Homo sapiens: one gene and its partners. The gene in region 4 interacts genetically with the main gene of each other region. Each region holds a gene or a part of one and is shown on either strand. Other genes may lie near its edges. The genes, in order: SEC24C, SLC39A9, ACACA, ARIH2, SEC23IP and CTBP1.

Region 1 (5,153 bases), on a different chromosome or scaffold from region 4:
GAACAACCGGAGGAAGAAGGCGCATGGCGCAGATATTCTGTCTGCAGAGGGAGTAGGGAGCACAATGATGAAAGGGAGTAAAGACAAATCACAGGAAAATGTCCCTATGAGTAAAAATTATATAGTTCCCTCTTCCTACATCCCACCCCCAGAGCTGCATTTCTCACTGAAAGAGAAGAGGAAATGCAAAACCGGCCATATCAGACTAGGGGCTGCCATGGGCATATGAGGGAGAAAGCCAAGATTATCTAGGATTCTCCTTTCTGGCCCCATCTCTAATGCCCTTCACTCTTGCTCTAAGAATCTTGATTCCAGCTCCTTCCCTAACCAAATATCTGTAACACCTCCTCCCGTATCCCTGGGATTCTGTGCCAGTTACTGATGCCCCAGGCAAATGTCACCCTACACATAAGAGACCAGTGCCCAACTATCCCCAATGGGACCCAGATAGAAATAGACAAACACACAGAGAAAGACGGAGAGATAAGCAGAATATAAACTGAGCCTTTGGCTTCTAGTAACAGAGAACCCTATCGTAAGATAAGCAAGGCTGAATATGAGTATCCTACCAAGGCCTGGTGGAGCAGCTGCCTGGCTCGCTCTCTTCATGCTGGTATCAGGTACTGGGGTGACAGATCAGGTCCCAAAACAGGTGACAGAAGGATCACTGGATCCTAATCTACCTTTTCTCTTATATGCTGTTCTAACAGCACTAACCTGGGATGACAGGACAGTCAGGAAAACATGGAATGATGTCCTTCTCATCATCTGGAGATGACCATGATACGAGAGGTTCCTACATTCAGCTGTCTTCTCCCCTACAATTTGGCCCTACCTCTTGTTTTTTTTTTTTTTTTTGAGACAGAGTCTCGCTCTGTTGCCCAGGCTGGAGTGCAGTGGTGCAATCTCGCCTCACTGCAAGCTCTGCCTCCCGGGTTCACGCCATTCTCCTGCCTCAGTCTCCCAAGTAGCTGGGACTACAGGCGCCCGCCACCACGCCCGGCTAATTTTTTGTATTTTTCATAGAGACGGGGTTTCACCGTGTTAGCCAGGATGGTCTTGATCTCCTGTCCTCGTGATCCACCCGCCTCAGCCTCCCAAAGTGCTGGGATTACAGGCGTGAGCCACTGCGCCTGGCCTGGCCCTACCTCTTTTCATCCTGCTTGTTTCCTCTAGAGACTCTGTTCCTTCTCAGCAATGTCTTGGGCTTTTGCTCTCATCCCTACCATCCCCTCTCCAGGCATGGGCCCTGGGATAGAAAGCCACTAAAGACAGTCTCCTCTCCTGCCTAACTAAAATATCTTCCATTGTGAAGCTGGAATCACATCCAGGAAGACGCTTTAGACCCCTCTCTACCTCCCTCCCTTTCATTACACTCTAGCCCCTTCCCTGACTCACCTCCTCTGGGGGCAGCCTTGCCAGCGGTTTGATGACTGCTGCCAGGGGCACCTGAGCCTGCTTAGCCATGTCAGATGTGCAAGGGATATTATAGGATGTACATCGGATGTATCGGGGACTTGCATTCCCTGAAGAAGGAGGCAGAAGACCCGAGTCAGATCACAGAATCCTTCCAGACACCAGCTCTCCATTGGTGATCCACACCATCAACTCCACAAAGCTAGAGGTGATGGTGGCTTTTTCCCCCAGAGGGACTAGAGGGAACTTGTCTCTGGTTAAAAACTAAAAAAAAAAAAAAAAAAAAAAAAAAAAAAAAGCCCCAACCATAAGCTGATAATCTTGAAGAAAAAGCCCCTGTGGGAGGAGCTAATTCCATTCTCACCTTGGTCTTTCACCAGGAAGTTGGTAGTGACTAAGGGTGGCACCTGGCCCCGTACTCCAGTAACAAATGGCTCTGTACCCCGGTTGTTCCTGTCATCTTCAATGACCTGAATCTGCAGAGAAGTGCAATGAATGAGGTGACAGAAGAAAAAGGAAGTGTGAGGTCCCAGAGTGCCAAGAGTGAAAAAGGCTAGAGCTGTAACACAAAAACTAAAAATTTGCCAAGGAACACCTCATACACCAGGCCTGTTCTCCTTCTGGAGATCATATAAAATGCTGTAATGCCAATCTTACACTCTACAGCAGCCAATCTTTCACTCCCAGCAGCCTGCTGGGCAGGCAACATGAGAATGGGCTTCTTTATGAATTGCCCCCTACCCCCCATCAATGGTGAACACCCTCTCATTCCTCCCATTCCAGGAAAAGCCCCAGCTCTGATCACAAACCTTCAAACATGATTAGATTCCATTCCCCTCCCCCATCATGCCTTCCCCGATCCTCTCCCCAAGACACATTCTGAGTCAGAGCAGGAAAACAGACAACAGTAACCACGTAAAAATGAATCTACCTGGAATGACTCTACACTCAATGAAATTACAAGGGACAGGGTGAGGAGAGATTTAAACAGCCAGAAATGATCAAGTAAGGTGAGGAAGCAGATGCTGCCTTACTTTCAGGTAAGCATCAATGTGTATATATAGGAGGAGAGGAGAAGTACCCAATCCTTATAGCTCAATCCTCAGTCCTCCACATTTTGACAGACTCAGCAAAGGAAAATAAAGGACCTGCAAAGCTGGTATTCAGACCTTTATGCAGGCTAATGACCTTTGGTCAGTTACTTCAAGATGGGTTTGGAAAACCAGAAAAAGCAAAGGGCAAATAAGACTCTATCCCATAGCAGAAAGGTTGAAGCTTAGAAATATATCAGAGTCAAAAAGACTCTTCAGATGAGAAAGCACCCACACTTTCCCAAACCAGCAGTCCCTTCTCCTGTAAGAAATGCCAGTTTGGGATACTATGAATCTGTACATTCCTACTCCAATATTTCTCCACAACAGGCTACAGACAAATCAAATCCAAAGTGGAATGATCTACCGTTCAACTTTGTCCTCTTCCATCATACATCACCTGCAGGCTCCTGGAGGTGCCAGCAGAACTAAAGCCAAAGCTTGACATGCCACCTGACCCCACCCTTAGAGCCTGACCTTCCACCACCCCATACTCAAGGCAAACAGCTTGCTACCTCTTCATTACCTGGTGACTTGAGGCATGCATATCCTTTTATCTTGTATAAGTGAGTATCTAGAAGGGCTAGGCTAAAGGAAGAGAATGGGGAGGAATGGACATGGTAGATGAGGTGAAGATGAGGTCACAGGCATGCATGGATGGCACTAACACAGGAATGACATGCACAAACACCCACCCCCTGCACTTACTGGACTAGGAATGGCATCGGGGTCTATTCTGTGCCTGGTTTTCTGCTGAGGAGGCAGCTCACTGAGTTGCTTTTAGTGTTTTAATAATAAATGCAGCAGGGGAATACAAGGAGGGAGACAAAAGAACAAGAGGCAGATGTTACTTCTCTCAACCCTGTTGAGTTAGACATGAACAGCTGGAGCCCAGCTCATATTGCTGAAATCAAGCCCCCTCTAGATATGAAATTCCAAGTCTTTCTGGCCCAACACAGAGGCTTTAATGGCTCAGACTATGATGTAGAAAGATAAGGAAAGGGGCAAACAGGAGGCAAGCAGGAGTTACACAGGGAGGGGCTGAGGCTGAATGGAAGAAACCTTAAGGAAGAAGAAGAGGAGTGTTCCCCCTAAAAGGCCAAACCTCCCATTCTAAGGACTATCTTATGCTGAAAGAAGCCTCCCTTCATGTCCAACCAGACTCTCCTTCTCACTGAAGGAGGGGGAAGGAAGGAGAGGCTGCTTAATCCTCTTGAGTTCTCCTTGGCCAACAGGCTCCCTCACTGTGTTGGTTACCCAAAGGAGGAAGAGGGACGAGAACAGAATGGAATATGACAATGGCTAAGCATGGCAAGGTAACTGACATAGCAAATGTTACAGGTGGAACTATAAAGTGGCCCCTACTTGGCAGTACAGTCCTAGTCTCTATTCTGAGTCTGATAAGGAGGGCCTGAGGATTCTGATGGCTCCAAGGGTGCAATTCACCCTCTTCCTGAAAAAAGCAGCTCTCCAGTGGGACTTTACATACACACTGCCCTCATAAACTGTCGTTCACTCTTCCCCATCCACACAGCAGAAGCCTACCAAACAAAAGTACTGGGGACTTCCTCCTAAAACTGTCCAAGTAAGAGCAGAGAAACCAGTGAGGCTTTCCTTCTCTTAACATCTAACATCAGAGAATTCCCACCTGCTCTACCCATTAGGAAGAATGCCATCCTTCTAGATCTAAGGGGACAAGACCCAGTCACTGCTCCACAGAAGGACAAAGGCTACTATACTATGTATGTACAGTAGTGACAGAGTGCAGCCCTCAGACATCTACTGGTGCTGCTGCTCACTCTTGGTTTCCCTTCCTTCTCTGCCCAGCTATAGAGTAAAACAGCCCCCCAAAAGACTCCTAGAACCTCAAGTTCCAGTTCAGAATCAAATTATATGTAAGTTCTCCAAGAAGATGAACAAAAAGGGAAAATTATCAGAAAATGCTAGGCAAACATTTCATCTAGATTGACCTGCCTATCTGGCAGACACAAACCCTTCCTCAGGACCATGAAAGTTTCTACTTACAGGGCTTGGGATGGCATCAGGGTCCAGGCGCTTAGGAGGCAGTGGCTGAGGAGGCCCAGGCTGACTGCCAAAGGTGGGTGCTGCTGGGTAGGGGCCTCCATAATTAGACTGAGGGCCCCGGGCTGGTCCGAAGGAACCTGAGACAAGGACACAAGGTTGATGAACTCAAAATCCCATCCCTATCTCTTCTTAAGGCCTCAGGAAAATGACTAGACTCCTAAAAACATAGAATTATGAGGCACACTAATGCCTGGCAAAGACATTCAGAAAAATACCATGTTATCAGAACGACAAGAAAAAATAATGTCTTACAAACCCCATATCCTAGGAATAATACCCTGAAGCTACCCATCTAATTCACCACTTAGCAAGTAATACTAAAAACAAACAAATAAAAAACATCAAAAACCACCTGAGTAGCTGAAGCCTCTAGCTTCTAAGACAGACCTTGGGAAAGACTCACCATTTTGTTGGGGCTGATAGCCTGGCTGCTGCGGGGAGTGCATAGGTGGCAGTGGTCCCAGGGGCCCAGTCATCTGGGTGCCAGGGGGCAGAGCTTGAGGAGGTGAAGACACATGGTTGGGCTGGCTCACTGAGGGCCCTCCAAAACTCTGTCCAGGC
Region 2 (5,153 bases), on a different chromosome or scaffold from region 4:
TCTGGAACTCCTGACCTCAGGTGATCCACCTGCCTTGGCCTCCAAAAGTGCTGGGATTATAGGCGTGAGCCACTGTGCCCAGCCATTTCCAGTCTATTATTGATCTCATCCAGTGAATTTACTACTTTAGATATTATATTTTTCAGTTCTAAAATTTCCAGTTCGTTTCTTTTTATAAGTGTCTGTTTCTCTGCTGAGGATGTTCATTTATTTGAGGAATTTTTACCTTTCGGCCAGGCGCAGTGGCTCACGCCTGTAATCCCAGCACTTTGGGAAGCTCAGGTGGGGGAGGATCACTTGAGTATAGGAGTTCCAGACCAGCCTGGGCAACATAGCAAGACCCTGTCTCTATTTTTTAAAAATTATTTTTCCAAAAGTATGTTATTTTTAGCTTAGAGAACATAGTTAGAGTAGCTGCTTTAAGTAAGTCTTTGAATGTTCCAGTATCTGAGTGATCTGTGGGTTGGGTTGATTGTCTTTTCCCTCGGTAATTGGTCAAAATTTCCTGTTTCTTTGTATGTCAAATAACTTTTGGTTGTATGCTGGACATTTTGAATATGATAACTTGAGAATCTGAGTCCCGTCAAAATCTCTGGAGAATGTTTATTTCTTTTGTTTTAGCAGGAAGTTAACCTATTTAGATTCAGCCTAAAAGTTCTGTTTTGTTTTTGTTTTTTGTTTTTTGGATGATGGTTCTCATTTTAGCTGAGTTTTCAAAGCCTTTACAATGCTGCTTTGGCTATGTCCTGTGTATACTGAGTTCAGGGGTGAGCCTGGGACTTGTGCCGTTTATACATAGGATTAAAGAACCCCTCTCTCAGCTCTTTCCTCTCCAGTGTTCCTTCCACATTGTTTTGCAAACAGACCCCATTTTCCTGGTCCTCTGTCAAGAAAGACAAGGTTTCTCTATAGAGCTGTGGCTGCATGCAACACTACATGTGTTGCCACCACATAGTTCCATGTGACTTGGGCTTCTATCAAAAGAAAGTAACAGCAGAAAAGGCAGAACAGCATAACCAGGTTTCCCCCATACACTTCAGACCACTGGGATCCCTTGCTAGCTCCGCCTCCCGGGTTCATGCCATTCTCCTGCCTCAGCCTCCCGAGTAGCTGGGACTACAGGTGCCTGCCACCACACCCGGCTAATTTTTTGTATTTTTAGTAGAGACGGGGTTTCACCATGTTAGCCAGGATGGTCTTGATCTTCTGACCTCATGATCCACCTGCCTCGGCCTCCCAAAGTGCTGGGATTACAAGCGTGAGCCACCGCGCCCGGCCTGGGATCCCTTTTTCTATTTGCTCTGGCCAGAAAGATGGGGTTTTAACTGCCTTTGTTGCCACCATGCAGTTCTGCAACTGGGGCTGCCTTAAAGGCAGGACCAGGAAAGAAAAAAGAGGAGGTAGAGAAAAAAAGGGGAGACTTTCCTGTACTTCACTACCTCTTAGCAACCTCTTTTCCTGGTCCTTTGGCCGGAAAGACAGGGTTTTTCTAGAAGTTTTTGCTGCCTTGCCTTCACTTGCTGTTGTTTACTTTTTGTAGTCCTGAAGTAGTTGTTTTTTGGTGTGTTTTGTCCAGTTTTTGTTGTAATCAGTGGGTGATTGACGTCAAAATGCTCTTACTGTAACATGGCCAGCATCAGATGTCTCCAACATTCCTTTTAAAATGTAAAATGTTAATACCTCTGTTAAAGAAGTTTTTTTGTTTGTTTTTTTTTTTTTGAGACGGAGTCTCACTCTGTCGCCCAGGCTGGAGTGCAGTGGCACCATCTCAGCTCATTGCACCCTCCACCTCCCGGGTTCAAGCAGTTCTCTGCCTCAGCCTCCCAAGTAACTGGGATTATAGGTGCCTGCCATCATGCCCAGCTAATTTTTGTATTTTTAATAGAGATGGGTTTCACCATCTTGGCCAGGCTGGTCTTGAACTCCTGACCTCGTGATCCACCTGCCTCAACCTCCCAAAGTGCTGGGAAGAGTAACTCAAAAAAATCTGTGAAGTAACTTAACCATGATATTACCTTTCAGCTAAGCTGTCTCCAGATTTTTTACATCTTTCTTCATACTGATGAGTTTAGACATATCATTGTAATTTTGTTTTTGCTGCTTTACTCTCTCTTTTCTTACCCTCTTCCCTTACCCTTTTTTTTTTTTTTGAGACAGAGTTTTGCTCTTGTCACCCAGGCTGGAGTGCAGTGACACCATCTCGGCTCACTGCAACCACCGCCTCCTGGGTTGAAGTGATTCTCCTGCCTCAGCCTCCCTAGTAGTTGGGATTACAGGCACCTGCCACTAGGCATAGCTAATTTTTGTATTTTAGCAGAGACGGGGTTTCACCATGTTGGCCAGGCTGGTCTTGAACAACTGACCTTAGGTGATCCACCTGCCTTGGCCGCCCAAAGTGCTGGGATTACAGGCATGAGCCACCGCGCCTGACCCCCCTCTTTCTTTATTGTAGACCAAAACAACTTTTCTTCGTACTTCAAGAAAGACGTTTGTATACATGTTACTACAGCCTATGGTTTCGTTCTTCTGTGGACCTTATAATTATAATACATTGTTTTCAGAACTCAGTATATCATGTTAACTAAGTGCTCTGATGCTTTAATAAGCATTATTAAATACTAATTAATGTAAAAAGGAACCTCTTACTCTTCTGTAATTATAGCTCTAAAATCACTGGAATTAGATGATTATCAGCTTTCACGTAAAAAAAAACTGTCTATAGAAACAAGTTTTAAGAACTTCAAAGATTGTTGGGTAATGCAGCACTTTACTGTGCAGCCAAAATTTGAAAACATCTCAAAATTCTTTGGACTGTTAGAATTGGTATGTTTAGGAAGGTAGACTATTGGGTCAAAGATGAAAATATAAATGTGATGTATTGTCAAAACTGCTATTGTCAGCCATGGCTCAATGTAGATTATCCCACTCATTTTTATCAGTTCTGTAAGAATGCCATGTATCAGATTCTTTATAGAGGTATGATTAACTGTGGCTTTTTCTGTCACTTTACTCTACATTAAATAAAATATAGGGGGCCCTAGCCAGAACAGTCAGGCAGACAAAAAAGATAGAAGGCATTCACATTGGAAAGGAAGAAGTAAAGTTGTCTCTGTTTTCAGGTGAGATGATCTTATGCATAGAAATACCTAAGGATTCCACACACAAAAAAATTAGAACTAATAAACAAATGCAGTTAAGTTGCAGGATACAAAATCAGCATACAAATATCAGTTGCATTTTTATACACTAACAATGAACTATTTGAAAAAGAAACTATGAAAACAATTTCATTCATAATAGCATCAGAGGGGGAGGGAAAGCATTAGGAGATATACCTAATGTAAATGAGGAGTTAATGGGTGCAGCACACCAACATGGCACATGTATACATATGTAACAAACCTACACGTTGCGCACATGTACCCTAGAACTTAAAGTATAATTTTTAAAAAAATAATAATAGCATCAGAAAATAAAATAAAATAAAATACTTGGGCATAAATTTAACCAAGGAGGTAAAAGATCTATATGCTGAAAACTATAAAACATTGATTTAAAAAATTGGAGAAAATATAAGTAAGGTATTCTGTGTTCATGAATTGGAAGAATTAATATTGTTAAAATATCCGTAGTACCCAAAGTGATCTACAGATTTAATGCAACCCCTATCATAATTCCAGTGGCATTTGCTATGGTTTGGATATTTGTCCCCTCCACATCTAGTGTTGAAACTTGATCCCAGTGTTGGAGGCGGGGCCTGGTGGGAGGTGTTTGGGTCATGAGGGTGGATCCGTCATGCACATATTGGTGCTATCCCCTTGCTGATGAGTGAGTTCTCCCTCTATAATTTAACAAGAGAACTGGTTGTTTAAAAGAGCATGGCACCCCTCCCCTCTCTCGTCTTGTGAAATACTGACTCCTCTTCCCCTTCTGCAATGATTGGAAGCTTCCTGAGATCCTCAGATTCGTGCTTCTTGGACAGCCTGCAGAACTGTAAGCCAAATAAACCTTAATAGAACGATCCTAAAATTCATATGTAACCACAAAAGGCCCTGAAGCCGGGGTAATTTATAAAGGTCAATTAAAGAGGTTTAGTTGACTCACAGTTCAGCATGGCTGGGGAGGCCTCAGGAAACTTACAATCGTGGCGGAAAGCAAAGGGGAAGCAAGGCACCTTCTTCACAAGGCCGCGGGAAGGAGAAGTGCTAAATGAAGAGGGGAAGGGCCCCTTAAAAACCATCAGATCTTGCAAGAACTCACCATGTAGTACACCTGTAAACCCAGCTACTCGGGAGGCTGAAGCATGAGAACCACTTGAACCCTGGAGGCACAGGGTTGCAGTGAGCCGATATCATGCCACTGCACTCCAACCTGGGTACAGAGTGAGACTCTGTCTCAAAAACATAAGAATAGTGTCAGGCACGGTGGCTCAAGCCTGTAACCCCAGCACTTTGGGAGGTCAAGGTGGGCGGATCACTTGAGCTCAGGAGTTTGAGACCAGCCTGGGCAACATGGCAAAACTACATCTCCACAAAAACAATATAAAAATTAGCAGGACTTGGTAGCTCACATCTGTAGTCCAGATTCTTGGGGGACTGAGGTAGGAGGATGACTTCAGTCCAGGAAATGGAGGTTACTGTAAGCTGAGATTGCACCACTGTAGTCTAGTCTGGGTGAAAGGGCCATACCTGTCTCAAAAAGAAAGAAAGAGAGAGAGACAGAGAAAGAAACAGAAGAGTACATTGTAACTGTTGTAAGGTTGGATATTATTTTGTGAAACTGTTTTGTTTTGTTTTGTTTTTTTGAGACAGAGTCTCCCTCTGTTGCCAGGCTGGAAGGCAGTGGCGTGATCTCGGCTCACTGCAACCTCCGACTCCCTGGTTCAAGCGATTCTCCTGCCTCAGCCTCCTGAGTAGCTGGGATTACAGGCACGCGCCACCGTGCCCAGCTAGTTTTTGTATTTTTAGTAGAGACGGGGATTCACCATGTTGGCCTTGATCTCCTGGCCTCGTGATCTGCCCCCCTTGGCCTCCCAAAGTACTACGATTACAGGCATGAGCCATTGCACCTGGCCTGTTTTGTTTTGTTTTTAAGAGACAGGATCTCTAGGCTGGACACAGTGGCTCATACTTGTAATCCACCACTTTGGGAGG
Region 3 (5,153 bases), on a different chromosome or scaffold from region 4:
TCACCGCACACTCAAAGAAGAGAGATAAGCAAACATAAGTATCTCACCTTATCCAACTGCTAGACCACTACAGCCTCTCACTGACTCAACTGTTCAGTGTGTATAAGAGCCATCAAAAGCTTTTAGCCACATGAGAGCACATTTCTGATTATTATACAATATCCCTGGACAAGGATGAAAAACTCAATGAAAAATCGGGAGAAAAGAGCATTTTTCACTTTGCATCAAAAGCAACCTCACCCCACCAGACATAAATGCATGCAGACAAAAAAACATGGGGACAGACTCTTGTCCAGTTTCCAGTATTTCCAATATGCTCCTCTTCTTCCTAGAAACATAGCTAACTAGTTAGAGACTAGATTTTTTTTTTTTTTTTTGAGACAGAGTCTCACTCTGTCTCCTGGGCTGGAGTCCAGTGGCACAATCTCGTGGCTCACTGCAAACTCTGCCTCCCGGGTTCAAGTGATTCTCCTGCCTCAGCCCCCCAAGTAGCTGAGATTACAGGCATGCGCCACCATGCCTGGCTAATTTTTGTATTTTTGGTAGAGATGGGGTTTCCCCATGTTGGCCAGCCTGGTCTCAAACTCCTGACCTCAAGTGATCTACTCGCCTTGGCCTACCAAAGTGCTGGGATTACAGGCGTGAGCCACCATGCCTGGCCTGGTTAGTGGCTAAGTTTTGACAAACAGGACACCAGCATTGGTAAGTGATATGCATAACTCCCAAGTCATATATATATATATATATATATATATATATATATATATATATATATATTTTTTTTTTTTTTTTTTTTGGAGATGGAGTCTCGCTTTGTCACCCACCCAGGATGGAGCACAGTGGCGCAATCTCGGCTCACTGTAACCTCCGCCTCTCGGATTCAAGTGATTCTCCTACCTCAGCCTCCTGAGTAGCTGGGATCACAGGCACATGCCACCATGTCAGGCTAATTTTTATATCTTTAGTAGAGATGGGTTTTCATCATGTTGGCCAGGCTGGTCTCGAACTCTTGATCTCAGGTGATCCGCCCACCTCAGCCTCCTAAAGTGCTGGGATTATAGGCGTGAGCCACAGCACCCAGCCCTAAGTCATATTTTGAAAAGGAAATGTCTCATTCTCTATTCCTGGCTTTTTCCTTCTTATTCATTGGAACATAGTCATGATAGTATAAGCCAACTTCAATCATGCAAATGAGAACACACTAAGAACACCAAGAAAAGAAAGGAAAAGAAAAGAAAGAAAAAGAAAAGAAAGAATGAACCTGAATCCCAAGATGGTCTCGTGGAATAAAACACTTCCACCAGCCCTGAAAAGCTCACCTCAGACTAGGATGGGAGAGAAAAATAAACTTCTATTTTTGGGGGGGTCCGCTGTGTTTTTTGGACCTTTTTGTTATAGCAGTTTAACCTGTATCCTAATCGATACAGGAATTATTAAGTGCAGGTAGAATGTTGCTGTTTAAAAATATTAAAATATGAGATGCTAGCTTAGCAAAAGGGTAGTGGGTAGCAGAGAAACAGATACTGCAGGCTGGAAAGGTGATAATCTCCTTGTTGGGATAACACAACATTTGGTAAACTGTTTCCTACAATAACTTGGGATACTGACCACACACCAACTAAACCTTAAAAAAGATGGTCTGAAAGGGTCAGAGTGTCGAAAAAGCCAACTTCTTTTGTATCCCCCCAAACAGAAAATGAGATTATCACCCTGAAGCAACTCAGTGTCAAAGATCAAACGTGCTGCTTTAGTTTCAGCTGGCCCCAAGATAGCCAATATTAAATCAAGGCAAGAGAGATAGGCTAAGCACAGAAGCCAGTAAATAATAGAAGAAAAGTTTCTATATCTAGAAGAAATCTATGAGTATGATTAATCCAACCCAAAGCTGATTGCAAGCAAATAGCCCAGAAGCTTAGTTAAGTATTTGAAGGAATTGTATTTCTAAACAAACCACAAACCTGGCCTTCAAAAGCCTGCGACTGATGATTGGGATATTTGTGCCCTCAATCCTGCACCAGCAGGAAGTGGGTTGTGAAAGTTCTGCCAAAGAAGGCATAGTCTCCAAAGCCCAACTCACAGAGAAAACTGAATGAGGAAGAACTTCCCAGAAAACAATGTCAGGTGTCTTGAAGGACAATGAACAAGGGATTTACTCCCTTATTGCACTTCTCTGGAGTGTGCAGTAGCAGAACCAGGGACAGCCAGGTCTAACTGAGGTAGTATTCTATTATATAGCAGGGAATCATTGCAATTCCTACCTAAAAAGGAGGATTTGATAACTGCTATGGACCAACGATTGCTATGTATTTTTCATTTTTCCAAATGAGAGTTATCCTGTTCCTATTCCATCATTGTATATGGGTGTATGGTGAAGGCAGGGGATATAATACTGGGTAAATAACTTGTATTTTGAGTCACTGGCCCATGAAAAGCCACAATACATATCTAATGGAGAAGAATATACATCATATAGAGATCCGGAATCACCTCCAGTAATAACCCATCCAGTTACTAGTAACTGGATGGGGCTTCAGGTTGTCTTCCTTGGACAAAGGCTATGTGTGCTCTGAAAGTAGGAAAAAGGATAAAGGGATAATAGGTAGCCAGAGGAACAGACTGAGGCACAGATTATGAAATGCCCTCCAGTGACTTTTCTCTACTTCATCATTTTAGGAATAAAATCGAAATTTTTGCTGAGCACATGGTCACCCAGTTAGTGATCACAATTCCTAACATCCTTTGTGCTAGGTATAATTGTGTAACTGAATTTTGTCCAGTGGAATGTGAGCAGAAGTGATGTATGTGACTTCAAGATCATGCTTCCATATGCTTGCCCTCCACATCCCCTGTCTCTTCCTCCCACAGGCCACAATGTGAACATAATCTTGTGTGAGTTAGCTTAATCATGAAGATGACAATGTCCAAGAGCAAAGTTTGGCAAACTTTTTTGGTAAAGAGCCAGATAGTAATTATTTTCAATTTTGTGGGCCATATAGCCTCTGTCACAACTATTCAATTCTACCATTGTAGTGATAAAGCAGCCATAAATAACACATAAATAAATAAGCATCATTGTGTTCCAACAAAATTTTATTTACAAAAACAGGCAACAGGTGAGCAATAAACCTGTTTCTGGTAACAGCTCATCTCTGAACTATGATGAAAGAGAAATAGAAACTTACACCTTGTTTAAGCCACCGTATTTTGCTTATTTATTTATTTGTTTTGAGATGGGGTCTTGCTCTGTCACCCAGGTTGGAGTGCAGTAGCATGATCAAGGCTCACTGCAGCTTTGACCTCCCAGTGTCAAGTGATCCTCCCACCTCAGCCTCCCAAGCAGCTGAGAGTACAGACGTGTGCCATGACACTCAGCTAATTTTTGTATTTTTAGTAGAGATAGGGTTTCACCATATTGCCCAGGCCGGTCTCGAATTCCAGGGCTCAAGTGATCTGTCCGCCTTAGCCTCCCAAAGTGCTAGGATTACAGGCAAGAGCCACCATGCCCGGCCAAGCCACTGTATTTTGAAGGCATCTTTATTACAGCAGTTCAAGAGTACATCCTAATATATACACAACATAGGAAATAGACCTCTAACACACATGAAATATATTTTGAAGAATCTATTTTGATGTAGAGACTGGGTTAGGACTCCAGAAAAGACTATGTTCAGGCCTCTAAACTATAGTTATTCCGAAGGCATCGCTCATGACTTTGAGAAACTACTTTCTATACAAAAAGATAGAATGTGTGAACTCTGAAGATATTTAGAGGACTTTCCAAAAACGATAATAGAGTTGATTAAATTCAGCTGAAGACTTGATGATACTCAACCCAGCAAATAAAACTACCTGATTATGAGCCTCTTAAAAAAATCAATCATAAGATTAAAAATTCCAAAACATTTCTCTTCTTTATCCCTGTATCCTGAAATGGTACGCTGATTTTTTTTAGAAAGCGTTAACTACTTTTAGAAGCTTGACATGTTCCTTGACAATTCTCTTAGTGGGAGAACAGTAGAATTTTTTTTCTCTAAGAAAAGGATATAATTTTATTAATTATTCAGAATCGTTGCTTAAAATGCCATTGTTCTCAGATTGGTACATGAACTGAATGAAAAATGTTCTATGTAAGAAAACATAAAGTAAGCCTTTTAATATATGTACCTGTTCCATGTGTTCAAATACTGCTGGAGTAGCAATAGTAGCAGGTGCTTCTTCAATAATCTTCTGATGCCTGCGTTGTACAGAGCAATCACGACCAAACAAAGAGATAGCATTGCCATATTGGTCCGCTAAGATCTGCACCTCCAGATGACGAGATTGTTTGGCTAGTCTCATCACAAATATGGGAGATCCAGGAACTTCAGCTTGAACCTGTATTAGAAAAGGGGGAAAAAAAAAACCAATTCTTAAATTTTAAACTTTTTATCTATCTTGATAAGCTACTTTGATTTCAACAAGCAGATGTCCAGAAGTGTCAGGAACCATGTTAATCAGCAGAAATACAAAACTGAATAAAATACAGTCCATGCTGTCATCTTTAATATCTTTAAGATGCTGCATTCTTACATAACCAATATTAATTGATAAATATGAAAACATACGAACATCTGGTGCATCACAAAGGTAAACAACAAAATATTTGAAAACATAGGCACATACACAAATCCAACAACAGGGCAAAATACTGCCATCCTGTACTCTGTACAACCAAATGTACAACTTGTTCCAGACAAGATACTTTCCTGGTTCACATTACATCATATATGGTATTGTTGCAGCCAAAGGACTTTCATCTTTAGTTTTGAAGAATATTACTGTTGGGGACAGAATTCTAAAATGGTAACTATTTTTTTTCTCAGCACTTTAAATAATCCCAATGATTTTCAGCTTTCACTGTTTCTACTGAGATGCCAACTGTCAATCTTATTGTTACTATTTTGAAAGTAATCTTTATTCCTCAGCTGGTTTAAGATTTTCTCTCTTTCTGTCTTTTATAGGGGGGAGGGTGGTAGATTTACTCTGATAAGCATAGATGTGGTTCTTTGTATTTGTCTTGCTTGAGGCTCATAGTGCTTTTTGAATCTGTCCTTGGTATCTTTTATCTGTTCAAAGAAATTCTTAGCTTTTCTCTCTTCAAATATGGCTTCTGC
Region 4 (5,153 bases):
TATGTAAATTATTCCTGATGGATGAAGGAGGTCTGAAAGGCTAAATCAAAACCCCCACTAGAAACTTTGTAAAACGGCAAGGGAAAACCATTATTTTACTACTTCTGGTAAAGGTATCTACAACGTAGCACAGATAAGCCCCAAGCTACTTACCTGCCTTGGCAAAAAAATGAAAGCAACACCCTGAAATCATCTTCTTGGATAACTGAGGATCATGAGGTTTATCCCAAACTTGACTTCTGACTATATGTGTTAGCAAGATAGCAGTGGGATTATAAGAGGGACCAAAAAACAGAAAATAAAAATAAAAAGCTACTTTATGCCAGTTACTGTGACTGTTAAGTGACTGAGGTTCTTCTATGTTTTGTCATTTCATGGCAGAAGTACTCACTTAAATAGTAACGGAGACCCAACCACAAGAAAGTGCCACTGGGCCTTACACACCAAGCTTGGAACTCACCGTGTTTACATTTGGAGCATTGCTGTCAGAGGGAAACAGAAGAAAACACGTTAAGGGCACACTGACCAAAGCTTCCATGTCACACATGCAAACTGCAGAGGCTTCTGCTCACCATGTGATTGCAGCCTCCATTCTTCTCAATGCAGATGTTGCACTTGGGACACTGAGGAGACAGAAGGGTGCCATTAGGCTCACACACCACCAGGTTGGTTTTAAGACAAATTACACAAAGCTCCTGGCACCTGTGCCCAGTTGCTCATGGTGTGAGCACTTCTGGGGAGGAGCACCTCACTTAAATGTGGCAGGTCGCTGAGGCTGGAACAGCAATTCAAGGAAATGAGGTCAGCACATTTAGCTTTGAAATGCTTCAAGCACCAGCTGAACCCCACTAAGTCTTCCACCATCTGCCCCTGCCATGAAGCTACTCAGATTAAGCACAAGTTGAATCAGCAGAAAGCCTGCCTTCTTGAGAGGACTGCCAAAGAAGCACAGGAGCTGCCACAATGGATTCAGTCCTGGTCAGCTTGCCTGAACTTCTGCTTCGAGAAGAGGGCAAGGAAACCACATCTAAAGCTCATCTCTCCCATTTGAGAGATGCCAGCAACCTGAGGCAGCAATGAAGACACCAGTCTGATGCTGTGATCTCCCACTGCCGTGAAGTCGACTATGTTTAATAATGTCGTTATCGTAACTGTGCTTGTGAGTGCACTGACTCGGCGAGTGACTGACAAAGGGTACAGTGGCCCCTAGAGCCCACAGGCCATACTTTCCCATGGGAGACTTCAAAATGAGTATCGTGCAGGTCTGGGCTTGCATTACAGCCTTATATGTATCAAGTGTGGCTATTAACCACCTCCCTTTCAGGGCTGTTAAAGGCTGGTAGGCGTTCAATCATAATTAGTTCTCTTCTAATTAGCTCCCCCTTTGGGTCCCCCTTTCCTGGCATTTTGGCATTTCATCATAATAAAGAAAATATGCACCCAATGCATCCTATAATAAACTGCTACGAGCTGCCAACTCTGTGTGAGGGTCCCCAAACCCCCAGTCCTCAGGAAGGGTCCTGGGGCTCTGGGTATTCTGCTCTCAGATGGCAAATCTCCAAGGCAAGGCCCTGGGCAGCACTAAGGAGGGCAAATCCATGAGAGGTAAAATACGGTCCTTACGTCTTTAGTGTGAGCACTAATGTAGTTGGCTGTTTCAGAGTCGTCTGCACACTTCGTGAGCCATTTCCGGATTGTGGCACAGTCTGTGGGTGCGTGATACATCTGACGACACTTGAAACTTAAAATTGGAAAAGAAAAACATTCAAATATTCATTAAGTCAGGGTCCCATGTTCAAAATTTTCCTTTTATCCAAGCCAACAAATCATGAATTAGAGCTTTTTTCTTTTTTTTTTTTTTTTTGAGACAGAGTCTTGCTCTGTCGCCAGGCTGGAGTGTAGTGGCGTGATCTCGGTTCACTGCAAGCTCTGCCTCCCGGGTTCATGCCATTCTCCTGACTCAACCTCCCGAGTAGTTGGGACTACAGGTGCCCGCCACCATGCCCGGCTAATTTTTTGTATTTTTAGTAGAGACGGGGTTTCACCGTGTTAGCCAGGATGGTCTCGATCTCCTGACCTCGTGATCCACCCACCTCGGCCTCCCAAAGTGCTGGGATTACAGGCGTGAGCCACCGCGCCCAGTCTAATTTTTGTATTTTTAGTAGAGATGGGGTTTCACCATGTTGGCCAGGATAGTCTTGATCTCTTGACCTCGAGATCTGCCCGCCTCAGCCTCCCAAAGTGCTGGGATTACAGGCGTGGGCCACTGTGCCCGGCCTAGAGCTTTTCAAATAGGTAAAGTTATCTCTCAAGGCTTGTGGAACCTTTACCTACCCAGAGTTATACTGAAATACTGCATGAATGTCTCTTCAACTTAAGCCTTTGTAAGACATGCTCTAACACGCACAAATAAAATATTTCTGTAGGCCGAGTGCAGTGATTCATGCTTGTAATCCTAGCACTATGGAAGGTTGAGATGGGAGGACTGCTTGAGCCCAGGAGTTTGAAACCAGCCTGGGCAATATGGTGAGATCCCATCTCTACAAAAAATGAAAAAATTAGCCAGGTGTAGTGCTATGTGTCTGTAGTCCCAGCTACTAGAGAGTCTAAGGCAGGAGGATTTGCCTGAGCTCTGGAGGTCAAGGCTGCAGTGAGCTGTGTTCGCATCACTGTACTGCAACGTGGACAACTGAGAGAGACCCTGTTTTTTAAAAAAAGGATTGCTTTAGACCAGGAGTTTGAGACCAACCAACCTAGGCAACATAGGAAGACCCTGTCTCTACAATTTTTTTTCTGAAATGGAGTTTCGCTCTTGTCACCCAGGCTGGAGTGCAATGGCATGATCTTGGCTCACTGCAGCCTCTGCCTCCCTGGTTCAAGTGATTTTCCTGCCTCAGCCTCCTGACTAGCTGAGATTACAGGCTCCTGCCACTATTCCTGGCTAATTTTTGTATCTTTAGTAGAGACATGATTTCACCATGTTGGCCAGGCTAGTCTTGGAACTCCTGACCTTAGGTGATCCACCCGCCTCAGTCTCCTAAAGTCACAGGGGTCCTAAAGCTGGGGTCACAGGTGTGAGCCACCACACTTGGCCCCTACAACAAATTTAAAAAAATTAGCTGGGCATCTGTAGTTTCAGTTACTTGGGAGGCTAAGGCAGAAGGATCACTTCATCCCAGGGGTTTGAGGCTGCAGTGAGCTATGATATGTATGTTAAATACCTTGTTTAAACATCTTGTTTACCAACTCCCAAGATGTCAAACACAGAGCTATGACTCTCAAAGGGCATGGTGAGGTGCTCTGAGAAGGACTCCTTAGCTCAGACCTAAGGCAGGATTGAGACCCACTTCCGGGAGTCTCATCGGATCTCCCAGTCAGATATGCACACAAGAATGCACAAATGCCAGAACGTGCAAAATCTGTAGGGTCATGATACATCTGATGACACTGAAACTTAAAACAGAAAAAAAAGACACTCCAATATTCGTCGGGCTAGGCTTCCATATTTTGAAATTTTCTTTTGTGGAGGCCAACAGTACTTTGTGGCTAGAAAAGGCCCTCAGGCAAATACCCAGGGAAAGAATTTCATAAAGTGGGACACAAGGATAAAGAACAATTACAAGGAGTCTTCTGAATCTGCTGTGATCCTGGGGGCTGCCGGATTTAAAATGAAAGAACCACTGCATTAGTGATTCTTAACCTTTGGTGTCAATAATGTCTTGAAATGCAGGCATGTGCGTACACACACACATCACATTTTCCATGTAGTTTCTCTGAAGCCCCACCATGAATATTCCAGGGAGGTATGATTAGGACAGATCTGGGCCTAAATTATGGCTCTACGATTTACTAGGTTTACCTTGTACCTTGATTTATTCATAGAATATAAGGGTCATGGCTAGGCGCGGTTGGCTCAATCCTGTAATCCCAGCACTTTGGGAGCCCAAGGCGGGCAGATCACGAGGTCAGGAGTTTGAGACCAGCCTGGCCAACACAGTGAAACCCTGTCTCTACTAAAAATACAAAAATTAGCTGGGCATGGTGGCACATGCCTGTAGTCCCAGCTACTCAGGAGGCTGAGGCAGGAGAATCACTTGAACCTGGAAGGCGGAGGTTGTGGTGAGCCAAGTATGTGCCACTGCACTCCAGCCTGGGCTACAGAGAAAGACTCCGTCTCAAGAAAACAACAAAAAAAGAGAGAATATAAGGGTCATATACAGTTGTGATAATGCAGGGTAAGTGATCAGGATAGTGCCTGTCACCTGGTAAGCCTTCGGTAAACTTTAGTTATTCCCATGGTATCTACTGAATGAAGTGAACCTTGAGTAGATGTAGAATATATTTATGACTTAGTTTAACAAAAATTAGCCAAGTAAGGCCAAGACAGAGAAAGATTAAAATGTTCAAGTTTATATCTTTCAAACACAGTAATATGTGATTAGCTATGCAGGCAGATACATCCCACACAATCTCTGGGCCATGAGACCTAGTAGCATAAGCCACAACACATTTTCCAAGAACCTGTGTCACTTCCTTGCCTCCAGACTGAGCATGTATTGAAGACCTAGTGGAATATGAGATGCTGGACATAAACCTACCCACTTGGAGCACAGCTGTTCTGTTGGCTCAGAGACCCTGCCTCTTCCAGTGCCGCCCTCACATGGAGCAACAGCAGTGGTGCTTTGGAGGATGGGGCATGAGCCCAGGGCTGCTCAGCACTCACACTCACTCTTACCAGAAGACCTCGTTGCACCGATTGCACTGTACTCGGCGAGCTCTAGGCTCCTGTACCCGAATAACCATGGGGCAGTCTGCACCAGGGCACAGCTGGAGCTGGTAATGACTCTGTGAACACACCAAGAGGAAACAATGAGGACATCTCTTAGTTGCTGTCTAAAAATCAGAACCCCCTGAATATTCAAACACTTTCTGTTCTCCCAGCTGATGACTTATACGAAGGGGCTATATAAATTCAGAAAGGATGTGAAGACCAAACGTAAGCCAGATATTAAAGAGGAATTTAGAACGTTTAGCTTAAACCAGGTAGCAACTCACTGGAATGATCTAAGTTTATATAGAATTGCACCAGGCATAGTGGCTCCTGCCTATAGTCCTAGCTACTCAGGAGGCTGAGGTGGGAAGACTGCTTGAGG
Region 5 (5,153 bases), on a different chromosome or scaffold from region 4:
ATCTTATTATTTAATTCCAAACACCAGGAAATCAGGAAAGTAAGTAACTGGTTAATTGAAAAGGCAATCTATAAAAAAGAAAACTCTTAGCCAGCTTGTAACTGTTTCCACCGTTAATGTTTTAGAAGGCTTGGTTATCTCTGCCCTTCGGAGGCAACACAAAATTAAGCCTAAAATCCGAAATAAGGAACATTTTCAGGGTTCCTCACTTTAAATCTGCTTTCTCACTCAGAAGTACCTCCTGTTAAATTCATAAAACATTCTAAATTGCTGAGAGCTGTCTAAGGAGATCAGAAACTGTCCTGTTGCCAAGAGTTGCTTTGTTAAATTTGCAATACTTTTTAAACTGTGAACCAACAGTGTTTAAAAGTGAACCAACATAGGCTGGGCGTGGTGGCTCACTCCTGTAATCCCAGCACTTTGGGAGGGCAAGGCAGGTGGATCACCTGAGGTCAGGAGATTGAGACCAGCCTGACCAACATGGTGAAACCCCATCTCTACTAAAAATACAAAAATTAGCTGGGTGTGGTGGCAGACGCCTATAATCCCAGCTAGTTGGGAGGCTGAAGCAGGAGAATGGCTTGAACCTGGGAGGCAGAGGTTGCAGTGAGCCGAGATCGTGCCACTGCACTCCAGCCTGGGAGACAAAGCAAGACTCCCTTTCAAAAAAAAAAAAACGGAACCAACATATACATACTTGACTATCAATATCCCCAACACTAGAAACAATTCCTTTTCAAATGAAAATTACTAAGATGCTTTAAAAAGAAAAAAAAAGCACACAGTCACAAATATCACAAATATTTGATCTCCTTGTTATAAAATAATCGCTAATTTTGGTCCCATTATTTCAGTTACAGTAAATCAACAGGACACACCATATTACTTTTGTATTGATCTAGTAGCACCTTGTTATCTGTAAGAAGTGTAAAGCAATCAATGGCAACTCAGCTGAGAAAGTTTCATGGTTCATCCAAAGGCAATTACCTTTTAATTTAAAAAATAAGATCACTCTATAGATTTTTGCTCATTTCAAAACATTCTTATAATGCCATAATTTATATATCTAAGCAACTGCAGTCCATAAACCAGTCTCCTTCTAGAAATTCTTCAAGAACTATAGAATCCTTTTCTACTTTTTTCCCTTTCATTACAGAATAAATTAAGAACATGGTGTAGGGCCTGAACACAAAGCTTCTCATTTCTTGTTTTTTTTGTTTTTTTTTTTATAGGCTTTTGCTTCACTGATGTATACACGGAGACAAGCATTTTTCTGTATGGAGCACGCAGCCTGTATACAGAAACAACACTGACATGCTTGTGTCCTAGTCTCAGTTTGACTATTGTGCTCATCAGAGACAAAAGCCTGGGGATCTACTCACAGGGTTGTTGTGAGGCTCAGGTGAGATGAAAAGCTCTTTGTAAATTGGAATTACAGAACGATTCAACACACAAGAAAAATGACATGAAAGATACCTCTTAACTGCCAAAACTAATAACCTTTCTCAGCACTTAATCAAATACTGCTTGTCTATGTCTAAAATGTCTTTTGAGTTGCTCCCTTCCTCTCCACCTCCTACCTTATACCCCTATCATCTCTCTTTCAGTCACTGTACAATTACAATTACTACTATGTAAGATTGCAGCCGCCTCCACTTCACGCCTTTCCAACTTCATCTGTGCACTGTGACCAAGCAAACTCTCCACAGTCCAAAAGTTAAAATTAAAATTTAGACTACACAGATGATTTGGTGCTAAATCATAACTTGTGATAGAATAAGCAGGTCAGCATTTTGTAATGTTTAAAAACACCATGACTTTCATGGCCATAAGAACATGTTTGAAAACCACTCCCTTACAAGAGAAAATCCAAGCCTCCACACCTGCCACCTGGGCCTTTGGAACCCTCTGCCCTTCCCAGTTTCCAGCTTCCCTGATGCTACAGGAAAACACATGCCAGATTCCAGAAGGCCATCTCCCCTGACCTTACCCCTCCTTCAAGCTCAAGCACCATCACCTTGGAGAAGTCTTCTCTCACCAACCCCATGCTTGTCTCAACAAGCCAGAACTGCCACCTCTCATCTGCCTCAGGACAGCACACACAGCACGCTATTATGGGGCTGGTATGTTGTCATTTGAGCTCAACGTGCTCCCCGCAACTAGACAGCACACTCTTGGTTAATCTCCGGCTCCCAAGAATTGAACACAGTGCCTGACTCAAAAGAGGTAGCTGCTATTCAATAAAATGCTGAGAAGACTCAATTCCTTAAGCTAACCATTAAAAAAAAAATCAGTCCTATGACTTTATAGTCATTTCCCATATAAAGAAATGATGTAGGTTAAGTTCCAAACAGGTAGTAAAATAATAGAACCATAGAAATTCAAAAGATGGAAGGATCATCAAAGAGCATGTTAATAACAATACAAATAAGACGGCCACCCTAAGAGTCATCTAATTTTTCTAATTAGAAAACCTCTGTAAAATTAATTTGATCAATAAATTAAAATTAATAAAACAAGTATATTTTCCAGTTGTTCTAGTTTTAAATGCTTTTTAGCTGTTGCCTTGTTTTGTATTGTTAACAATTTTTGCTGTTTAGTGTTTAAGACTTCAGTGTGTATGTTTTTCCTCATCTCTTTAGATGGTAAGGACTGGGAAGAAAGTGAGCTATTACTTGGTGCTAAGCTTTGCATGCATTATTTCATGCTTACTCCAATCCTGTAAGGAAGGTATTATTCCATTTTAGAAATGAAGAAAACAAAGGATCAGAAAAATTAAGAAAATCACTCATGATCAGAAGGCTGAGGCGGGAGGATAGCTTGAGCCCAGGAGTTTGAGACCAGCAGTGGGAAACACAGCAAGATCCCATCTCAAAATAAACAAATGAATAAAACCAAATACAAATTGCTCATTAATACGCAGTTAATGAGCAGTTGAGCTGAGAATTTATTTGTCAGAACTTAACCACTGTTTGCACCAGGAAAACCTTAAATATCCATTTTAAAACTGAAAGCCCTTCATCCTAGGAACTTAGTCCCAGGAAAACCAGGATGGTCACTTAGCCTAATGTGGACTTAAGCCCAACTCTGACTCCTAAGTCTGGGTTTCCATCAGCTCCATTACTGTGCCCTAGGTAGGGAGCAAACTAGCTTACCTAACCATAGTAGTATTAAAATTTTCTATAATATAAACGAGCTGGTCACACCATGAGTTTTAGTTTTTCTTGAGTCAGAGGTGAACTTTACCAGTTTGGCTGCTTTATGTTCTACAAAGTTAGCTATCTTCTTTCTGGGTCCAAGGGGTATCCCCATTTCCTTCAGGTCATCAACTGTACACATAAGCTTTAAAAGGAAACAGACAAGCACATTAATCAATCTAGTGATAGAAGAACTGAAATGAGAATATGAAAATTATAAAGAAACCACATCATCTAAAGCAATCTAAGAGCCACTCAACTTTTTACAAGTTAGTTATTTTGTATTTAAATCATGCATCAGTTTAGGCTATAAAATCTTAGGCTTCCACACCTAAATCATTCTATTAATTAACAGAAAATACACATATGGTATACAAAATTCCAAAGCTATAGTCAAGCATACGATGAAATATCTTCCTCCCACTGCTGTCCCAAACATAGAATTCTCCTCTCAGCGCAACTGTGGAAACTTGCTCTCTTTGAAGCGATGTCTTATGTATGCATAGCACTTACATGTTTTTCTCTGTGTGTGTGCTCTACTATGCACACAGTAATGAACTCTGCTCTCTTCATGTAAATGTACCTTAGAGACGGGTATCTCTGACACTGCATCATTCATTCAACAGCTGTAGGGTACTCCGTTATGCGGATGCACCATAAATGATTTCACTAGCACCCTACTCCTCAACACCAATGGTGTCTCTAATGTTTTGTTACCTTGCAAACACTGCTGTGAGTATCCTTGTAGATAATTCTTGTTTGAATATTTCTCTATAGGAAATATTCCTGGCAATGAAACTGATGAAGCAAAGGGTAATTTTTATATTCTTAAAGATATTGCCAAACTGCCTTCCAAAGAGTTTGTAATATTTTACAGTCTGACCAACAATATATAACAATGCCTAGTTCCCTTCACCCTGGCCACATAGCATATTTTCAAACTTCCTATTTTTTCAAACTGGTAAGTTAAAAAAAATCCCATTGTACTTTCAATTTCCATTTCTCTTATGAGTTTTCATATGCGAAGACACCATTTGTTATTTCCTTTTCTGTAAATCATGTTTATATTCTTTGCCTATTTACATATCACACTGATGTGATGGTCTTTCTGTAACTGATTTGTAGAAGCTTTGAAAATCAATGAAGTAAGCCCTCTGTCTATAATGTGTGTTGCAAATGTATCACTGGCCTTTAGATGTTGTTTATGGTGTCTACTGTTATACAATTTTTTTCTTTGATGGCTTCTGGATTTTGCATCATACTCAGAAAAGCCTTTCAGATTATAAAAAAATATTCTTCTGTGTTTTTCAATTTTTTAAAACATTTCAGTCTTTGTCTACTCTGGAGTGTATTTTGATACGAAAATGTTTATTCTTAATTTTCAATCTACACAAGAAAAACAATTTCAAACAAAATGAAGCAAACTATGATCAGTACCAGGGACTCCATATCAATCTTTTCCTTTTCAAAAGTGCTAAAATATTCAGAGAGGCTAAGTGCTTCCAGAGTTTCTTGCAAAGTTAGGACTTCTTTATTTTCAACAACAAGGTCATACGACTCATCCAAAGTCAGCTTTGGCTCTTCAGGCATCTTTAAAAAAAAAAGTATGAAAAACATTACAAGCTCAGAAAAACTCCCATATAATGACTGCTGATCTACGAAAACTCTCAAACAATTTTGCTTTACACAGAAATCATAATTTTAGGCACAGTACTTTGCCATTCAAAGTTTGAATATTCTGGCCAGGCCCAGTGGCTCACGCCTGTAATCCCAGCACTTTGGGAGGCTGAGGCAGGTGCATCACCTGAGGTCAGGAGTTGAAGACCAGCCTGGCCAACATGATGAAACCCTGTCTCTACTAAAAACACAAAAATTAGCTCAGCTTGGTGGCAGGCGCCTGTAATCCCAACTACTCGGGAGGCTGAGGCAGGAGAATCGCTTGAAACCGAAAGGCGG
Region 6 (5,153 bases), on a different chromosome or scaffold from region 4:
TGGGAAGGCCCAGCTCCCTAGCCCCTTCCCAGCCCCACCCTGGGCTCACCACGGCGCTAGGACTGAAGGCCTCGGGCGTGCTGCACCGCGGCCCTGACAGGCTGGCTGAGGATCTGCCCTGTATGGACCTGCACGGCCCCACAGCTCCTAGAGAGCTCCACCCTCCTGCCCAAGCCCTGAGCTGAGGACTGGGCGGGGGCTCCTGGCTTGGTCCCCCTGTGGTACCCCTTTTCTGGGTCCCCTCCAGCCCAGCCTCCCCCACGCAGGGCCTCAGCCCACGAGGTGGGACTCCCTGGGACGGCAAAGCCCAGGGCCGTCTGTTCTGAGGCGTGGTCTTTGACTCCAACCCCAGCGGGGCCTGCAGCAGAGCCTCCGTCTTCGGAACAGGCTCGCTTTTCATGCACTTTTGCAAAAAGCCCTGCGGGTGGCTCTCCCTCGGCTTCGTGGCCAGGGCTTTCCTGCAGCCCCCCCATTTCATTCCAAGAAGTCCACCCAGCCACGGTGCTTGGCTGACAGCTGGGCAGGTCACGGTGGCTTTTCTTTGGTGCACTGCTGCCCATTAAAGCCTCACACCCAAGGTCCTCAGGGACGGCAGGGCTCTGACCAGCATCCACGTGCCACACCCTGTCCCCTAGAAGGCTCCAAACCCACTGACTCTGTGAACAAAGGAAGGGGCAGCGGGAACCTGGCCTCATCCTCCTTGTGGCTACAGGCTGCTGGGGCAGCTAGAGTGGGCGGGTGGCCTCTGACACGTGTGTACACACATGCACATACATACAAGCTCATACAAACATGCAGACACATGCACCCACGCACACTTGCCCACACACATACACATCACTGTGCACACACGATGACTCCCTGAAGGGCCTGGAGCCAGCGGGAGGCAGCCATCCCCAGCTCCACCCACTCAAGGGGAACGCAGGGCTGAGGCTGCACTGCGAGCTGTGCTGAGGCAGAGGCCGACCTGAGCACAGCCCGTTCCAGCTGCAGATGTCAGAGGCCGACCTGAGCACAGCCCTTTCCAGCTGCAGATGTCAGAGGCCGACCTGAGCACAGCCCGTTCCAGCTGCAGATGTGAAACCTGAACCTGGCAGCACGGAAGTCACAAGGGCCGACCCAACGCCCCCAGGTAGCTGCATCTGTCCCCACTGTGACAACAGCAAGGGCTTCAGGGGAATTTGGTGTTCAAAGGTATGAGGTTCTGTCTTGTCCAGAGAGTATTTTAGATGTCCTGAGTAGAACTCAGAACACAGAAAACGCTGTCTGGGCAGACAGGGCTTCCCCCAGCAGGGCTGGCAGCCGCCGCCATGTGGCTCGCTGAAGGCAGGGTCTTGCCCAGGTGCAGATGGCTGCTGGGAGGGACCTGCCTGACACCCCCACCTGTACCTGCCCCGCAGAAGTAGAGTCCTGTGTCCCCGGCTCCACGCACCTGCTTGACGGTGAAGTCGTTGATGAGGTGGTGGTTGTGCTCGTTGAGGCCGCAGTGCAGGGTCACGCAGTCGCTGTGGAAGAGCAGGTCCTGCAGGGTGCTGACACGCTGCAGCCCCAGCGCCCGCTCCACGCCATCCGACAAGTAAGGGTCGTAGAAGAGCACGTTGAAGCCGAAGGCCTTGGCCCGCAGCGCCACTGCCTGCCCCACGCGACCTGGTGGCGTCAAGACACAGTGTGAGACCCTTGCTCACCCGTGGCCGGGAGGCCGGCCCCGAAAGCCAGGGTCGGAGTGGCCTCTGTGCCTCAGTTTGACCATCTGCCAAGGATGACACCAGCTGTGGTCAAGCCAAGGTGCCCACGCACGCTCCACACGAGCGCTCCACGTCCGCTCCAACGCGCCCACTGCCAAGGCGGAGGAGATGCACAGGGGTGGAAAGGGTACACTAGCCCCTCGGCCCACACCAGCTGCCAGCCACACCACTCCCCTGCAGCCTGTCCACAGGACGTGACATGAACCACTCAGTGTCAAACGGACTGGTCAGTGGGTCTCCACCCACCCAACACATGTCCTCCGTGCCCAGGCCCCTCCGCTGGCCTTTCGATCCACCCATCAATGTTTCCGGCATCTCAATTCCAGCCACCACTACGTGGAGACGGCAAAGGGGGCAGGAGGGAAACTTCCAGACCAGGGAGGCCCCGCTGGGCTCAGGTCCTGACCCCTTCGAGTGGAGCGGCAGAGAAAGCCATCCCAGGCAGACGTGCCTGCCCCCACCCCAGCAGTCCAAGGCTGGCACGGGTCCCAGCACAGGAGCCGTGGAGCTTGAGCCACCGTGTCTGGCTGGGGCCGGCTCCTCCTCGGGGAAGGGTCTGCAGAGTGCTCGTGCCCACTGTGAGCCAACAGCATGGCTGCAAAGGACACAGGACCCCAAGCCCGCGAACGTGGTGTCTCCTGCATTGCCTCAGAGGGAACCGCTACACAGGAAGGAAGCAGGTTGAGCGCCGGGGCGGGTGGGAAGTGGGCGCAGTTTCAAAGGCGGCAGCCAGGGCAGGCCTCCCTGAGAAGACCAAGCTTGCTGGAGACATAAGGGGACAGGAAGGGAGCCAGAGAGCTGGAACAACACGTGCGAGGGGCCCGCGGCGGCCTGAGGGCCAAGGAGACCAGACCGCCAGGCACACAGGGTGGCCGGACGTGGCCCAAACGCCCAGGGGACCCCCAGTCACTCTGGGAAGAGGACTGGGGGAGGCTGGGAGGCCAGTCAGAAGAGCTGAGGACCGTCTAAACGCACTACATCCTAGAAAGGGAGGCGCCTGTTCTACGAGAAGGAACATGGTGGCTCCTTCCATCCCCAGGGACGAGGCTGCTGCAGGAGGGAGGAGGGCTCGGCAGGCGGAGGTGGGAGCAGCAGTTCTGAGGGTTGCAGCCACGGCCGGAGTACCCGGGCAGCTCCCCAGGTGCAGAACAGCCCGTCTGTCAACGCCCCCTGCCAGGGATCCCACCAAATGGGGAGGAAGAGAACACAGGCAGACACAGAGAAAGGCGTCTCCCACAGCGCAGAAGGCGGACGACACGCTGTTTCCCACTGCGCACAACACAAAGCCCCGGAAGTCGGGCTGCCGGTGGCGAAAACCAGCTAAAGCCGCGGGCCGGCGCCGGCCACGCCTGACACGGGAGAGCAGCGGCTGTTCGGGGCGAGACCATTCTTCACTTCTGTCTCTGCCATTCTCTTCCACATGATGTCTGGCTTAGGATAAGAAATTATGATGATGCAGGTGAAGAGACAGGAGGATGTAGTTTCTAATTAGAACAAAACACTGGAAGCGGACAGACGCACAGATGACCGAGGCTGGAATCAGCCAGCAAAACCTCTTAATAACTACTATAAACATGCTCAGAGATGACAACAAGTGTGGATGTAAACAGCAGAAAAATGGAGGCTTCCGGAAGATGAATGGTAACTCTATAAAGAACCACATAGAAATTCCAGAACGAAAACATCCCTCTGAAACGGAACTCCCTGGACAAAGCTAACTGCAAGAAAAGGATCGGGAGCTTGAAGGGAGGGGCTCAAAGTCAGCAGATGGCATCCAAACAGAAGCAGAGAGAAAAGAATTTAAAAAATAAATTTTAAAGAACAGGCCTTGGTGGCTGACGCCTGTAATCCCAGCACTCTGGGAGGCTGAGGTGGGCGGATCACAAGGTCAGGAGTTCGAGACCAGCCTGGCCAACATGGTGAAACCCCGTCTCTACTAAAAATACAAAAATTAGCCGGACGTGGTGGCGGGCGCCTGTAGTCCAAGCTACTCGGGAGGCTGAGGCAGGAGAATGGCGTGAACCTGGGAAGCAGAGGCTGCAGTGAGCCGAGATCGCGCCACTGCACTCCAGACTGGGCGACAGAGCGAGACTACCTTCCACAAAAAAAAAAAAGGCAACACATTTTCGGACAAAGAAAAGCAAAAGGAATCGGTCACTGGTGAGCCACATTTCTAAGACAGTCTTTAGGCTACAGGAACGTGACGCCCGAGGACAGCCAGAATCGGGGGGCGTAAACAAGGCAGAAAGGGTGGATGTGTCGGTTGATATTCAAAAGAAAAATTACTGAAAAATTCCTTGACAGACTCATGACTAATAGCTTCTTGTACGGTTTTCTGCATAATAGACGTGGAAAATCGGCCCGAGGGTGAGAGGAGCCACCGCGGGCCTCTGGCCGCCCTGGACGAGTCTTCACAGGTTATGCTGGGTGGCAGTGAGTTATGAAGGCGTATCCTAATCTCTAAAGTAAAACTAAACACGATCACTAAGCAGAGTATAGGTTAAAAAGCAACAACAGATGCAAGGAATCATTTAACACCTGATTAATATAAAAGAAGGCCAGAAAGGAAAAACAAGGATGAACAGAAAACACGTAGCCAGATGACACCGAAATCCAAATCATCAGCAATTACACTAAAAATAAATGAACTGAACACTCAAGAGGCAAAGACTGTCAGACTGAAAAAAGAAAGAGGAACTAACTCTATACTATTAATAACAGACACACTTTAAACATAAAAGACAGAAGTCAGGCGCCGTGGCTCACACCCGTAATCCCAGCACTTTGGGAGGCCAAGGCAGGGTGACCACTTGAGCCCAGGAGTTCTAGACCATCCTGAGCAACACAGCAAGACTTTGTCTCTACCAAAAAATAATAATAATAATAATAACAATTAATTTAAAAAAATTGCAGTGGCACGCACCTATAGTCCTAACTACTTCGGAGGCTAAGGCAAGAGGATCTCTTGAGCCCCAGTGCTCAAGGCTGCAGTGAGCCGTGACCGCACCACCACACTCCAGCCCGAGTGACAGAGCAAGACCTTGTCTCTGAATGAATGAATATAAGAACAGAGATAAGCTAAAATTAAAAGGATGAAAAAAGACATACCACACAAACACTGATCAAAAGAGCTGGGATGGCTGCCTCAACATCAGACCAATTAATTAGACCACAAAAAGACCAACAGGAAACGTCCTACTTAATGGTGAAATGTCAGAAACTTTTTCTCCCACATCAACACGGTAACACCCACACTCACTGCTGCTGATGATTGTAGCTAATGCAAAAAGGCAAAAATAAAGAAATTAAAGAAATAAAAGGTACAGAGATCAGAAAGGAAAATGTAAATCTGTGTTTATCTGCAGATGACACAGCAGTGTGTGCAAGAGAAAATTCAAGAGAATCTGT

What was found.
Region 1: changes in ARIH2 (region 4) and SEC24C together harm fitness more than expected from each alone (negative genetic interaction), as found in Homo sapiens cells (one large-scale study listed by BioGRID).
Region 2: changes in ARIH2 (region 4) and SLC39A9 together harm fitness more than expected from each alone (negative genetic interaction), as found in Homo sapiens cells (one large-scale study listed by BioGRID).
Region 3: changes in ARIH2 (region 4) and ACACA together harm fitness less than expected from each alone (positive genetic interaction), as found in Homo sapiens cells (one large-scale study listed by BioGRID).
Region 5: changes in ARIH2 (region 4) and SEC23IP together harm fitness less than expected from each alone (positive genetic interaction), as found in Homo sapiens cells (one large-scale study listed by BioGRID).
Region 6: changes in ARIH2 (region 4) and CTBP1 together harm fitness less than expected from each alone (positive genetic interaction), as found in Homo sapiens cells (one large-scale study listed by BioGRID).

Annotation. Positions count from the first base shown.
Region 1 is NC_000010.11:73,760,229-73,765,381, reverse strand, and holds part of SEC24C (protein transport protein Sec24C), read right to left. Parts: coding exon 4,996-5,153; intron 4,670-4,995; coding exon 4,533-4,669; intron 3,285-4,532; coding exon of another isoform or gene 3,216-3,284; intron 1,893-3,215; coding exon 1,781-1,892; intron 1,527-1,780; coding exon 1,399-1,526; intron 1-1,398. UniProt on the Homo sapiens protein: Component of the coat protein complex II (COPII) which promotes the formation of transport vesicles from the endoplasmic reticulum (ER).
Region 2 is NC_000014.9:69,435,889-69,441,041, forward strand, and holds part of SLC39A9 (zinc transporter ZIP9), read left to right. Parts: intron 1-5,153. UniProt on the Homo sapiens protein: Transports zinc ions across cell and organelle membranes into the cytoplasm and regulates intracellular zinc homeostasis. Participates in the zinc ions efflux out of the secretory compartments.
Region 3 is NC_000017.11:37,259,521-37,264,673, forward strand, and holds part of ACACA (acetyl-CoA carboxylase 1), read right to left. Parts: intron 4,375-5,153; coding exon 4,165-4,374; intron 11-4,164; coding exon 1-10. UniProt on the Homo sapiens protein: Cytosolic enzyme that catalyzes the carboxylation of acetyl-CoA to malonyl-CoA, the first and rate-limiting step of de novo fatty acid biosynthesis.
Region 4 is NC_000003.12:48,970,287-48,975,439, reverse strand, and holds part of ARIH2 (E3 ubiquitin-protein ligase ARIH2), read right to left. Parts: intron 4,846-5,153; coding exon 4,736-4,845; exon of another isoform or gene 4,599-4,735; intron 1,742-4,598; coding exon 1,624-1,741; intron 776-1,623; exon of another isoform or gene 624-775; coding exon 573-623; intron 483-572; coding exon 461-482; coding exon of another isoform or gene 392-460; intron 1-391.
Region 5 is NC_000010.11:119,919,078-119,924,230, reverse strand, and holds part of SEC23IP (SEC23-interacting protein), read right to left. Parts: intron 4,788-5,153; coding exon 4,635-4,787; intron 3,343-4,634; coding exon 3,247-3,342; intron 1-3,246. UniProt on the Homo sapiens protein: Plays a role in the organization of endoplasmic reticulum exit sites. Specifically binds to phosphatidylinositol 3-phosphate (PI(3)P), phosphatidylinositol 4-phosphate (PI(4)P) and phosphatidylinositol 5-phosphate (PI(5)P).
Region 6 is NC_000004.12:1,214,559-1,219,711, forward strand, and holds part of CTBP1 (C-terminal-binding protein 1), read right to left. Parts: intron 4,034-5,153; exon of another isoform or gene 1,648-4,033; coding exon 1,433-1,647; exon of another isoform or gene 1,401-1,432; intron 1,133-1,400; exon of another isoform or gene 988-1,132; intron 1-987. UniProt on the Homo sapiens protein: Corepressor targeting diverse transcription regulators such as GLIS2 or BCL6. Has dehydrogenase activity. Involved in controlling the equilibrium between tubular and stacked structures in the Golgi complex.